Regions from separate parts of the Homo sapiens genome. Here all the other regions are linked to region 2. Evidence: fine-mapped expression QTL. A gene starts in region 2. Each other region holds a variant in brackets. All regions are shown on one strand. Distances are from middle to middle.

Region 1 (4,244 bases), 35 kb before region 2:
TTCCTTTAAATGTCGTTGTTTATTTGAATATATTAAGAATAATATCAAGGTAATTATCTATGTATAAAATGTATGTTTAATTTTTTAGGAACCATCATACTGTTTTCCACAGTGGCTGTACATTTTACATTCCCACCAACAATGCACAAGGGTTCCAATCGCTCCATATCCCTGCCAACACTTGCTATTTTTTGATTCTGGGACAGCGAACCTAATGGCTGGAAAATGGTAACTCACTGTGGTTTGGATTTGGGTTTCCCTGATGATTAGAAATATTTCACATCTTTTCATGTCTTTTGGCCATTTGTGTATCTTTGCTGGAGAAATATCTATTCAAGCCCTTTGGCCATGTTTTAATCAATTTCGGGGAGCGGGGGGAGGATTCTTGTTGTTGAGTGTTTCCATCCCTCCTCTTTTTCCCTCCAAACACTCTCTCCGTGTGATCTCACCCCTTCCCATATATTTAAGCTCCTTCTGCACCACAGGCCTCCAAAGGGAGGTCAAAGAATGCGATGTGCCACTGACGCATGTGTGTGTGCAGAGATGTCTTCCTTTGCCTTTTGTATTAAACTATGAATGGAATTAAGACTTACTCATATTTAATATGTGGATTAAAATGGTACCTTCACCCCATCCTTATCTCAGATAATCCCATGTCCTACATGAAAAATGAAAGTCCTGGGGGAAATAGGATGTTCCGCAAAGAGCATGGGCTGACAGTGCTGACCTCACTCTGGCTGTGCGGATTAAAGGAGCTCCTTATAACCAGAGTTGTAAAAGATTCCTGCAAAGAAACTGGGACTGAAGAGTGTCCTCAAAATAGAAACACATAAATCAAGAAGAAATCGCAATGCTGACACTTTTCCTACTCTGAATAAGAAATTTTCATTATCCACATTTCAAGGTAAAAACCAAGATAGTTCATCCAGACCTGAAAAACAGACAGTTTAAAAATTCAAATGATCAAGAAGACGATTTGACCTCTGGATTACATTGACTATTGCTAACCATAAACTTTACCGTACATGTATACTGTGCCTTGAGAAACTAAAGAAATCAATAAGATTAAAACTCTTAAAAAGTAAGCCTCGGCACTTAATAAGATTGGCAATTATTCATAACTTAAAGAAATAATATATTAAAATATAGCAGCATTGTATAATAATTTGCAGAGATGGAATGTAGTCATGGCAACATCTTGGGCCCTGCAGAGTTTCGCTGGTTTGGCTTAGGTCAAAGTACAAATAAACTATTTTTCTTAAAAAAAGAAAAAAAAAGACATGTTCTAAAATTACTGAGTAGTGCTGTGATTCAATAGAAAAAAGAGTAAAAAATCTGGAACCAAGCTTGAAATGTAAACATACTCAACGGCACTTCTGAGAAAGGTGATTATATAATGATGAGGTAGAAATGACAGTAACTGATTTCAGGGAAGACATTTAAGCTTTGGAAAGAGTATTTTGTAACAAGATGTTTGCGCGTATTTGCAGCCCCTGGGATTTTGTTGTTGAAAACAATGTATGCCACCTCTCATCTCTGCCCAGACAGAGAACTTTCTAACATATTTCAAAATATTCCAGAGTTTAGCTTCGGTTTAAATTCATTTGATAATAATGCAAAAATTCAACATTCTTTTAGTTTGTAAAGACAGTTAATTTTAAGGAAGATGGGAATTCAAAAATCGCATTTCAATTGTTTGAGGAAAAAAATTTTTCATAATTTGTGGACATCATTAAAATAAAGTCTAATGATTTCATGAAGTCCATATTGTCCTTCCATTTAGAACTACACATTTTGTGATTATCTTTTAAACTATTATATCTGGTACTGAAACCAAAACTGTGACATGAACTGAACCTACAAGTAAATTTTCCAAGCACTTTATCCTAAATATTAAACTAAGATTTTAGAAATAATGATGGATATTCAATCCTATTATTCTACCTTCAAGCTGATAATTAACATGTTATCATTAATATAATATTTATTATATTTAATCCATTCTATTTAAGTAAAAAAGATATTATATATCATTCATAGGCAAAAATGTTTTAAAATATTGCTTACTTCAGCTTTATCTCATCTTATGTAAATATTTTGTATATATACTGAATGTGCATAAATATATACATGCACATTAGTGCTAATGTATTTATATATACATAATATAGCAATAAAATATTCATATTTGGGGTATATAATGAAGATTTGCTAACCCCAGTTGGATCCCACAAGCACCTCAAATCTAATATGTACAAAACTGAACTCCACACCATCACCCTTCAAAAACTTGTTTGTCTGCCTCTCCCGTCTTACGAAATGATACCACCTGCTGCTCACTTGCCTACATTGGAAGGGTCAGGGTCCTTCGCAACTCCTCGTTCTTCCTTTCATTAACATCCATAGAGTCCTGTCCATTGTGGCAGCCAGAAGCCTTTGTCCTCTTCCTTCAACCCTTACAGGCCCCATCTGGTGTGGCTTCTGCTCTCCTCTGTCTCGCTAATTACAAGAATCTCCTAAGTGACCTTCCTTCCTACAGTGCTGCTGTCTCCTGACCCCCAGTTCAAGCCGCAGAAGACTGATCTTTCAAAAACAACAAATCATAGGCTGCATCTTCTTAAGAGC[G/A]CTCAGTAGTTTCCCAATGCCCTTGGATACACTCCAATCTCTTCTTCTTCAGCAGCACAGCGCCTGCTGGCATCTGTAGCCTCCCCTCCCTCACACTCTACCATGGAGCTAGTCAGCACTTTTTCCATTCTTCCTGTGGCCCCTGGCCTCTCTGGTGCTCCACGCACATGCCCCATCTCCTAGCTAATGGTACCCGCCCTGCAGTTTTCTGTGCAGAGGGCCCTCGCTAAGTGAAGCCCTCTCAGATGGTCCCTGCGCCTCCTTTAGCATACCACTTTGAACATACGAAGACACGTCTGATGAATAATTTGAACTGCTTCCGGAACAAGAACAAGGTCTACATTGCTCACCAGGGTAGACTTGGTGACTTGCACAGTGTCTTACCTATACCACACCTTTCCTTAATTGATATGTATTGAATACACATATGAATACTACTGGTATGATTTTACACTCGGTTCAAAATAAGCTCTCTGTTGTCCAATGTGCATTCATGGGATGAAAGTCACCTCCTCTTTTCTTTCTCCATCTATAGGATTATTTTTGGAAAACTATTCCTGCTAGCTGTCTTACACTGTTACTTCTAGCTCTTAAAACAGATCTTCTACATTCAAATCTCCCTATCATGAAGTACCAAATATATTTACTTTCTTGGGTGCCATGTTTAAATGTATTTTTTACTCATGTTCAATGATCATCATCCCCCTTCTCAATCCTTTCCATTACAAAGGTGTCAAAAACAAGATACTTGACATACGAAAGCAATGGGGAAACAGATTAAATCATGAGTCAAAAACTTCTCAACCAATTAGTTAAAATGTTGAAAGAAAGGACAAGCTTTCTGACCACCTGTTACCTAAGGCCATGATAATGCTTCTCATGTAAAGGTATTATTCCATAACATCCTTTTACTTTTTTTCTAATAATAGTATTTTAATTTCCAGTATTTTGCATATTATCTTAATTATATTAAAGTACCTTAAAGCTGTTTTTTTAATTTTTAATAATGCCATTCACTAATATATAAATTTGTAAAACTATGGAAACTTTGAGGAAGAAATTTCAAACTTAATATGGTTGGCCCTCCATATCTACAGGTTCTGTACCCATGGATTCAACTGAGGATCGAAAATATAAAAATAATAATGATAGTAATCATAATAATAAATAACAATATGACAATAAGAATTAAACACCAATTTTAAAAATACAGCCTAATTACTAGTTATATAGCATTTGCTTTGTATTCGGTATTATGAGTAATCTAGAGATGATTTAATGTACATGGGAGAACATGCATAGGTTAGATGCAAATACTATGCCATGTTAAATATGGGATGTGAGCATCTACAGATTTTGGTGTCCATGGGGATCCTGGAACCCAATCCCTCTCAAATACCAAGGGACAACTGTGGTCAATTAGACCACTTAGGACAACTGTGGTCAATTAGACCACTTCTGCATTACATTTGAGCCAGAGAGCAAGAGACTGAATTTTTAACGTTTTTTATAACTGCACAGCTCTTACCATCAATGTCAAGAGTATGGGGAAAAAATGAATGAATCATGCCTTTATTTATCAGCCAAGCTGTGAGAGAGTAGTCATCAGAGTACTGGTC
Region 2 (4,244 bases):
CCTGACAAGACTTTTTCAACTTCCTTTTCTTAAAAGATGTAACAGAGTTTGAGCCAACTGCATGAATGTAAGAAACAGTTAAAGTGCCAGCTTGATTATCTCAGATAACCGGGGACTTCCCTGATCTTCCAAGGACTCCCAGAAGAAGGCATCAGTCAGTCCACCAGCAATCCACCAGGTATTCTCATCTCAAACAGCAAGCCAAGCTCTTAATAACCGCAGAAAACACAAAGTAACAAAACCATAGCCAAAAAATAATAATAATAAACTTGAGAAGACACCCCAACCAAGCAGAGATAGGAAAGTGCAGGAAAGGGGGAAACCCCCGAGGGTTCCTACCTTACAGTCTTCAGGACAGGATTTCACCGAGTACTCCTCCGACTGTAAATATTTGTGGAGCACGCTTTCAAACTCTTCGTATTTCTCCTGAGCATGGTGGTCATAGTCCTGGTAAGCCTCGACGCACTGCCTGCAAGTGGTCATCTCGCCGCCTTCCTTGAGCACCACATCCAGACTGCAGTTCAAAGTGTTGGGACTGGACAACCCCGAGAACAACTCCCAAAGTGTGTAGGAATTACAAAACGAAAGGTAAAAATCCGACAAGTTCCAGAGCGGAGTGGGATGCTTGCTCCTCACCTCCTGCCCGTCCCCCCCGGCCGCCCCCCGACTCCAGTTCCTGGCGCACACCGCGTCCGCATTCTCCACCGTGAAGCACTGGCCCGAGGACGCGCCCTGGGGGTAACAAGTCTCCAGGCGCCACACGGGCTTGGCAGAGTTTCCTAGAAAAAGAGCCTTGCCCCGGTCGTCTTTGCCTCGGTTGCCCTTGCCGCCGCCGCCGCCGCCGTCTCCCGGGGAGGGGGGCAGGGTGGGGGACGAGGAGGCGGAGAGGAGTCTGTGTGCCTGGGCGGCGGGCGAGGACTCCCCCATGCTCGCCAGGAGCGCGGGCCAGGAGGGCTCCTGCTGCCGCCGCTGCTGCTGCTGCTGCTGCCGCTGCCTCTGCTGCTGCTGCTGCTGCTGCTGCTGCCGCTGCTGCTGCTGGTGCTCCTTGTCCCGGGCCCGGGTCAGCTTGGCCTCGGCGCAGAACCACAAGTGATCAGAGAGCAGGACTGTGAAAAACAAGAGAGATGCCAGAGACAGTCGCCATTTCTGAGCCCTCTCGGAATCGATGAACGGTTTCTCGTTCTCTCGGGGTGCTGCCAACCAGATTTTTAAGCCGTCGTCATACTGCCGACACATCCAAGCACCCCTGGTCATATTTTGGGAACGCACAGCCCTGGCCGACTCCACCGTGAGGGCGCCTGTGCCGGTGTCACCACAATATGCATTGACTTAAAGGGTTTAATTTCCTTATCCCCTCCTCCCGTTTCTTCTCTCTCCTCTCTCTCTTTCTCTCTCTTCCCCTCTCCCTCTCTCCTCTCTCTCTCTCTCCCTCTCCCTCTCTTTTATCTCTCTCTGTCTCTTTTGCCTACATAAATATTACCAGGCTTTGAAGGAAGGTCTGACTTGCTTCCTAATCATCAGCCGACCCCATCCTCTGTAGAGTGGGAAACAATAATGGAGAGAGAGAGAGAGAGAGAGACGGAGGAGGCTGGTGCTGGTGGCCGGCGGCGAGGCTGGGTGCAGGGGGCGATGGTGGAGGTGACAGGGTGGCTGGCGCGGCTCCGGTCACCCAGGCATTGTCAGCGCGCGGGTCCCCATGGCCCCGCGGAGCCCAGCCCGCTCTCCCCTGCCAGGGGCATGCCGCGCCTCCGCTGCCCACTGACGGCGCCCGGAGCGCCTCCCCTCCTCCTCCTCCTCCTCCTCTTCTTCTCCTCCTCTTCCTCCTCCTTCCTTTCCTTCTCCTTCTTCTTCTCCTCCGCCTCCCGCTCCTGCTCCGCGCTGGCTCTCCCAGAGTCCGGAGCCTGGGCTGCCTCCGGCGGGGCGCTCCCTCCCCCCCACCCCCCACCCCGCGCTCTAAGTGCTGCCGCCGCCGCCGCCGCCGCCGCCGCTGCCGCAGGGCCGCCCGCGGGCGCCGCCGCCGGGGCTCCGACTGCTGACGCCGCCTCCCGCGGAGCTCCGGGCCGAATCGCCTGGGCTGGGCCTCCCGAGAGCCACAGTCATCTTCAGTCCGCGGGCTAAGTTGCCGCCATCTTCGTCCTGGAGAAACACTTTTTTGGGGGGAGCGCTGGCTTTTGCGTCATCTCCTCCCGCGCCGAGCTCGCTCCATCCTGGCGCAGTGGCGCCGGCTCGGCCCGGGAGGAGGGAGAAGGCGCGCGGGGGCGGGCGGCGGCGGGGCCGCGGGGCCCGGGGGCCCCCGCCCGGCTCCCCGGGCTCAGGCGCCTGCTCTTTCCTTTCTGTCCCCCTGTCCACGATATTTTGTTTTAATCACTGAAGAGAAAAATAAAAGTCAGACTGCGGACGGCATGGCCGGTGAGGCTCCTCGCGGCCGCGCCGCCCGCACGCTCTGGCTCCGGGAAGCGTCCGAGTTGCAGGCGCCCGGGCAGAGGTCTCTACTGGTGCGAGGGTCTGGGCAGAGTCCTCTCAACTAAGGACCGAGCCACTTCGGATGGAAGGTGGGGGTCCGCGGAGGAAGCTCGAATTGGCTAGAGGAGGGATGAGGTGACATTTGGTCTCTGAATGCGTCTCGGATCCCGGACCGCGAGATCCATCGCTCCCAGTGCGTGCAGTTATTCCGTCCTGCTGTGTGACACGGGAGAATGGCGCGCACGCCTGTGCACCTGCATCGACCGTGTAGCTGCCTGGGTGACAGCCACCCATTTGTCTATGTTTTCTTTCCTATTCTAAAGTAAACGATTAGAAGTGGCCTCATAGAGTCTTAGGAAGAAACAGTAAGCCCTGTGCCACCCGGGGTCACTGCCTAGCCCTGCCCTCCGCGCGCACCGTCCGCGTCTCCGAGGGCTCCTCCTCGGACCTGGACCCTCTGGAGCGGCTTCGACCCTCCCTCTGCCCCCGCTGCCTGCGTCCAGACCCCCTCCCGGGTGGGCTCCTCCGAGGACCTCCGCAGCCGCGGGCGAGCTGGGTGCCTGCGAGTCGCCGCCGCAGTCTGAGCCTCTGGTGCCCCTTAGCGTTGGCTCTCGGAGTTCTGAGAAGGGAAAGGAGACAGACACTCTGGGAAAATCTGGGGTCACCTCGATTCCGGCTCCTACGCTGGATGCCGTGGGCAAGCATCGGTCTCCTTTGATCTGAAGATCCTGCCCACTCCGCCCCTTGCCCCTGCCAGACCCGCGGGAGCAGCAGGTGGCGTGGGTGCCAGACGCTGCCGGTGCGCACCGAGTGCAGCGCTGCCCCGGCTCGCCCCGGGGGTCGCGTGGGACAGCGGTTTGCGGTGTCGCCCTCTCTGCGGTGCTTTCCAAGGACCCTCATGCCCCGCCCGGGTGCACATTCACCACATGGGTCTTACTAGGTGACCTCTTTCTAAGTAAAATGCATTGAGAAACCAAAGGGATGGGGCATCCGTATCCATTTTCCTTTAAGGAGCGCTGTGGGTGTTGGGGATGCGGGAGAAGTAGGTGTTTTTTAAAGAGAAAATTGCAAAACCTCTTGGGCAGGATTCGACCTACTAGCCTCTTCTGCTGCATAATAAGGTACTGTATACACTAAATTTTACCCCTAAAAATTTTCAGTTCTTACCAACTATAGGTAATGATCATCCAAAAGCCGCGTCCTGTTTGATGGCTGGTTTACTCAAGTGTCATGTAGTGTTTTAAAAGACGATTTGTGTAAGTAGATCATTCTAGTACTTTCGATTTCAGTGTGTTGAATTTCTGAGTAATGTCAGTTTTTCCTCATAATACAGACAAAATTATTATTTATTAACCAGATTGTTTATTAATCAGGACTGTACTGTACATGCCACAATATTTCTTAACTAAATACGAGTGCATACATTCTCGCTGACATAACTATTATTATACAAGTACAGTTTGTGCATTGTAAAAAAGGTGTAAAAATCAGAAGAGCAATTTAAAAAGTCATGGTGATATCAACACCCAGATATAATCAGTATTTTCATTTTACAGCATCTTCCTAACATTTTTATTTTGTATTACTAATTTCCTGTTTTGTGATATTCACTAGTCCAGCATTTTCGAAGGATTGAAGTATGATAGAATACACATCCACACTTATTAGATAATAATATATTTCCCTTCAATAATGCATTAATTTTAATCAGACACAAACATTTTAATGGTGGCTGAGATTATTAGCATCCAATGTCTTACTCTGCATGTGTGATTAAATCA
Region 3 (4,244 bases), 96 kb before region 2:
TCTTCACAATAGCAAAGACTTGGAACCAACCCAAATGTCCAACAATGATAGACTGGATTAAGAAAATGTGGCACATATACACCATGGAATACTATGCAGCCATAAAAAATGATGAGTTCATGTCCTTTGTAGGGACGTGGATGAAATTGGAAATCATCATTCTCAGTAAACTATCACAAGAACAAAAAACCAAACACCGCATATTCTCACTCATAGGTGGGAATTGAACAATGAGATCACATGGACACAGGAAGGGGAATATCGCACTCTGGGAACTGTTGTGGGGTGGGGGGAGGGGGGAGGGATAGCATCGGGAGATATACCTAATGCTAGATGACGAGTTAGTGGGTTCAGTACACCAGCATGGCACATGTATACATATGTAACTAACCTGCACAATGTGCACATGTACCCTAAAACTTAAAGTATAATAAAAAAAAAAAAAGAAGAAATAAACACAGGTTTTAGTCCTAAAAAAACGGTTCCATTAACCCTTATATAATCCACCAGTCCCTGATTAAATCACCAGCTGTGGAAAGTTTTGCTGTCTGAGCCTAAAGTATAATGGGTTACCATCACCACTTAGAGAATTCCATCAATATACATCCTCCAAATATCTCAAACTTCAAAATTCAATTTTTTTTGCTTTGTTTTGTTTTGTTTTGTTTTGTTGAGACGGAGTCTCGCTCTGTCACCCAGGCTAGAGTGCAGTGGCGCGGTCTCGGCTCACTGCAAGCTCTGTCCCCTGGGTTCACACCATTCTCCTGCCTCAGCCTCCTGAGTAGCTGGGACTACAGGCACCCGCCACCACGCCCGGCTAATTTTTTGTATTTTTTAGTAGAGACGGGGTTTCGCCGTGTTAGCCAGGATGGTCTCGATCTCCTGACCTCGTGATCCACCCGCCTCGGCCTCCCAAAGTGCTGGAATTACAGGCGTGAGCCACCGCGCCGGGCCCACTTTTGTTTTTTATAATAATGATAATCTCCAACATTAGCCAAAGTTATCTAAGACGTTCTTTTGATTACTTATGCTGTTTGGAGCTGCCTAAAATTCAGAGGTAGTTGTTTAGTTCTCCTTGAAAGTGTAGATGAGGGGTAAAAGGTCAACTCTAAATTGTCAACTCTTTTGCATGCCTAAAACTTTAAAATGTCAAAAATGATTTAATATTATTTATGCATAACAAATTATTCATAGAATATAGAAATGTAACTCTAGTTTATTATTAAATAAGAGCTCTACGTTTTAAGGAAAAATACAGTTCATAAGTACCTACAACTGGGCTTTCACTTCTGAAACAGACTTCAAGTACCATGGTTTCACAAGTAAGTAATATGAACTTTCTTATCCAGTGATCCTTCTAATCACTCTCAAGCCATTGTCCAAATATGTTTCTCCAAAATGCAGGGTTTACTAACAGCCTTTTGAGAGCTGCCTATTGTAATTAGGAAGACATGTTAATGGCCTGGGTGAAATCTCAATGGGCTCATTGTAAATGTTCATTTGATGGCTTTGTTCTCACAGACTTTGTACTAGTCAATTAAATCTTTAATGACCTGACTTACATTTTTCTCTTCCCTTTTGAAATAACTTGCTGATTTCTTTTTTTGCTTTGTTTTCTTTGCTTCTGGCAATCTTTTGGTTGCATTATTCCTTTTGGCCTAAATAGTCTTTGGCCTTTAGCAGACCTTGTGAGTTTCTGGTCTTTTTCCTTCCTAGGAATGAGGGAGCCTGGGTGTAGCTCCTTAAATAAAATCACCTGACATGTTTCCTCAAAGGGGCATAAAACAATTTCATTTGAAATTGTATGTCAAATATCGATTTATCTATCTATGTATTCTATCTTGCAGATTAAATTTGCATTATGTTAAGGACTAAATTTACAAAACAAATCTTACCAAAATGTAAAATTAACAGAACTTTTAAATTTTACTTTCTGGATGTTTCCAAATCCTAAATTTATATATTGGTTTGAGATGTTATTTTAACATG[T/TTGTGTGTGTG]TGTGTGTGTGTGTGTCAGTATATGATAATTACTTGAAATCCGCTTTCAAAAAATGTTTTACAATTGAAAATATAAATAAATTGCAGAAGGCCTATAATTATCATCATAATACATAACATACTTAATGGCTATCAACTGGATTGCATGTCATTTTATGCATACACATATATAAAATATTTGTTTTGTTTTCCTTAACAGCATAAATGTATATATGTATGCATATTATAAACATATATGATACAATATATAAAATCTATAATATGTAATATAGTATAATATATAATATATATTAGTGTCAGAGGCGTTCGAACCAGAGCGACTCCATTTTGAGTCAGTGTTGGGAAAATGAGGCTAGGAGTTGCTGGGCTGCATTTCCAGAAAGGCATTCCTAGCCTGTAGATGTTTACTGTTAAGGGAACAAATTAATAATGTTTACTAAATAGACTCAGACTTGAGAGTGTCCAGATATCCAGATATCTGCAGAACAAAAGCATTTCTTTTCTTTTTTTGACGGAGTCTCGCTCTATCGCCAGGCTGGAGTGCAGTGGCGCGATCTCGGCTCACTGCAGCCTCCGCCTCCCGGGTTCAAGTGATTCTCCTGCCTCAGCCTCTGGAGTAGTTGGGACTACAGGCACATGCCACCACCCCCAGCTAATTTTTGTATTTTTAGTAGAGACAGGGTCTCACCATGTTGGCCAGGATGGTATCGATCTCCTGACCTCGTGATCTGCCCGCCTCGGCCTCCCAAAGTGCTGGGGTTACAGACATGAGAACAAAGGCATTTCTAATTTTGCTTTAAAAATAATAATACTGATTCTTGCAAAATATAGTAATTAAGAAAATTAATCCTCTATCACAAACCCTTGAAGCAGAGCACATCTCCCCATATACACACGTATCGTATCTAGGGTGGACCCGTCCCTCCTCTTACTTTCAGGAACTCCTACTCTGTCTACGGAGTAGCTACACTTTGGCTACTTTACTTTCTTAATAAACTTGTTTTTACTTTGCACTGCGGACTTGCCCTGAGTTCTTTCTTGCGCGAGATCCAAGAACCTTCTCTTGGGGTCTGGATAGGGACCGCTTTCCTATACCATTAGTAGTGAAAATTTTTTAAAATATTGAGGTAAGTGGACCATTTGTCTGATCTGTTATGCATTATTAGAGAGTTTCCATATTTAATGTGAAAAAAACAAAATCTTGTCCTGGCACAAACAATACAATATGTCTCTATTTTTTTGAGATAAGTTCAATGTAAAACATAAATTCAGGGAGTTGTTTCAGGAGTTATATAAATGCTATGTGAAAAAAAGTCCCTAATTAAGAATGTAGGTAATATATCAGTAAAAGCTAAATTAGCCATTGTGAGATTTGCAGCATCATTTACAGCAGGCTTTTCTAAAACATGTTCAACGAGAAAAGAAATTCTGGGGTGAAATATTTGTGGAAAACACTGTGAACTATATCCCTTCTTGGGTCACGGCCTTGACTATTAGCCTGTTAGAAGCCTATTAAAAGCTCTGAGAAGCTTAGGTTCCTATGTGAGAGAAACACTTATTAAAAATCTCTGAAAGCAGTTTTCCATGGAACAAGTTTTTTTAATGCCACATTTTAAAATTCTGTATAAAATCTCTACCATATGTGATTATTTCCCCATTAAAAAATAATGTTTAAATTGTATGCAATGTAAAATTTCAGGATAGATCTTTATTATCTATCACATTTGAAAAGAGGGTTTTTTTTACATTTCATATTTGTTTTATTTAAAGAAGATTAAATGAGTACAGTGTACCTTGCTATGCACCAGCAAGGTAACATGAATAATTTACAATTCCTTTAAGAAGCTCAATGTCATTAAGAAGATGAAACAAAGTACTACTAAGGTAAGCAGTATATTGGCCATGTGTTGTTAGAAGCTAGTTGACTATTGTTTTTCATTCAGAGTCTGACATATTTTACCTTGATCATACTCCAGTTTGATAGATTACTTTCAATTTTCTCATCAGAAATATGAACTGAAGCAAAGATAGTACTAGCAAATGTGAAACTATCTTGATACACATGATAAATCATACTTCAGAGTGATAAATCATACTCAGAATAAACAAGCTCAGAAACAGTGCAGAAAAGACTAATGTCTTTGTTTAAAGCTAATATATGGCTAGACCTCAAGTTATTATGGGATAATCTTGTAATTACTTTGCCATGGGTTAAATAAGCTAAAATTCTGATAAAATAATTTCAAGGACTGATT

Alleles and levels. Alleles are on the strand shown, and positions count from the first base shown. SD is a standard deviation of normalised expression in the study named. Not every link is listed here.
As copies of G replace A in region 1, the expression in thyroid of the gene that starts at base 2,154 in region 2 goes down (moderate effect, 0.54 SD a copy in GTEx).

What was found. PIP is the estimated chance that this variant, and not a neighbour inherited with it, causes the effect. A credible set is the group of variants that fine-mapping cannot tell apart.
Region 1: its variant is the best candidate, but not a certain one, in a credible set for the expression of NALF1 in thyroid (GTEx, PIP 0.84).
Region 3: its variant is the best candidate, but not a certain one, in a credible set for the expression of NALF1 in testis (GTEx, PIP 0.51).

What each region holds. Positions count from the first base shown.
Region 1 is chr13:107,830,265-107,834,508 of GRCh38, forward strand. The region is part of intron 1 of NALF1 (NALCN channel auxiliary factor 1); the gene reads right to left. All of the region lies in intron 1 of NALF1-IT1 (NALF1 intronic transcript 1), which reads right to left. Among named protein-coding and RNA genes, the nearest start is that of NALF1-IT1, 3.1 kb to the right of the region's middle. The variant G/A (reference allele first, on the strand shown) is at 2,626.
Region 2 is chr13:107,865,343-107,869,586 of GRCh38, forward strand. NALF1 (NALCN channel auxiliary factor 1) reads right to left here and starts at 2,154. Exons shown (of 3, transcript NM_001080396.3): 1 at 340-2,154. The coding sequence starts at 1,254. It overlaps LOC124903206 (heparan sulfate glucosamine 3-O-sulfotransferase 4-like), which reads left to right and starts at 1,331. Exons shown (of 1, transcript XM_047430833.1): 1 at 1,331-4,244. The coding sequence starts at 1,555. The coding sequence ends at 2,118. RefSeq lists an enhancer at 2,622-3,190.
Region 3 is chr13:107,769,259-107,773,502 of GRCh38, forward strand. All of the region lies in intron 1 of NALF1 (NALCN channel auxiliary factor 1), which reads right to left. Among named protein-coding and RNA genes, the nearest start is that of NALF1-IT1, 64 kb to the right of the region's middle. RefSeq lists an enhancer at 1,194-1,747. The variant T/TTGTGTGTGTG (reference allele first, on the strand shown) is at 1,990.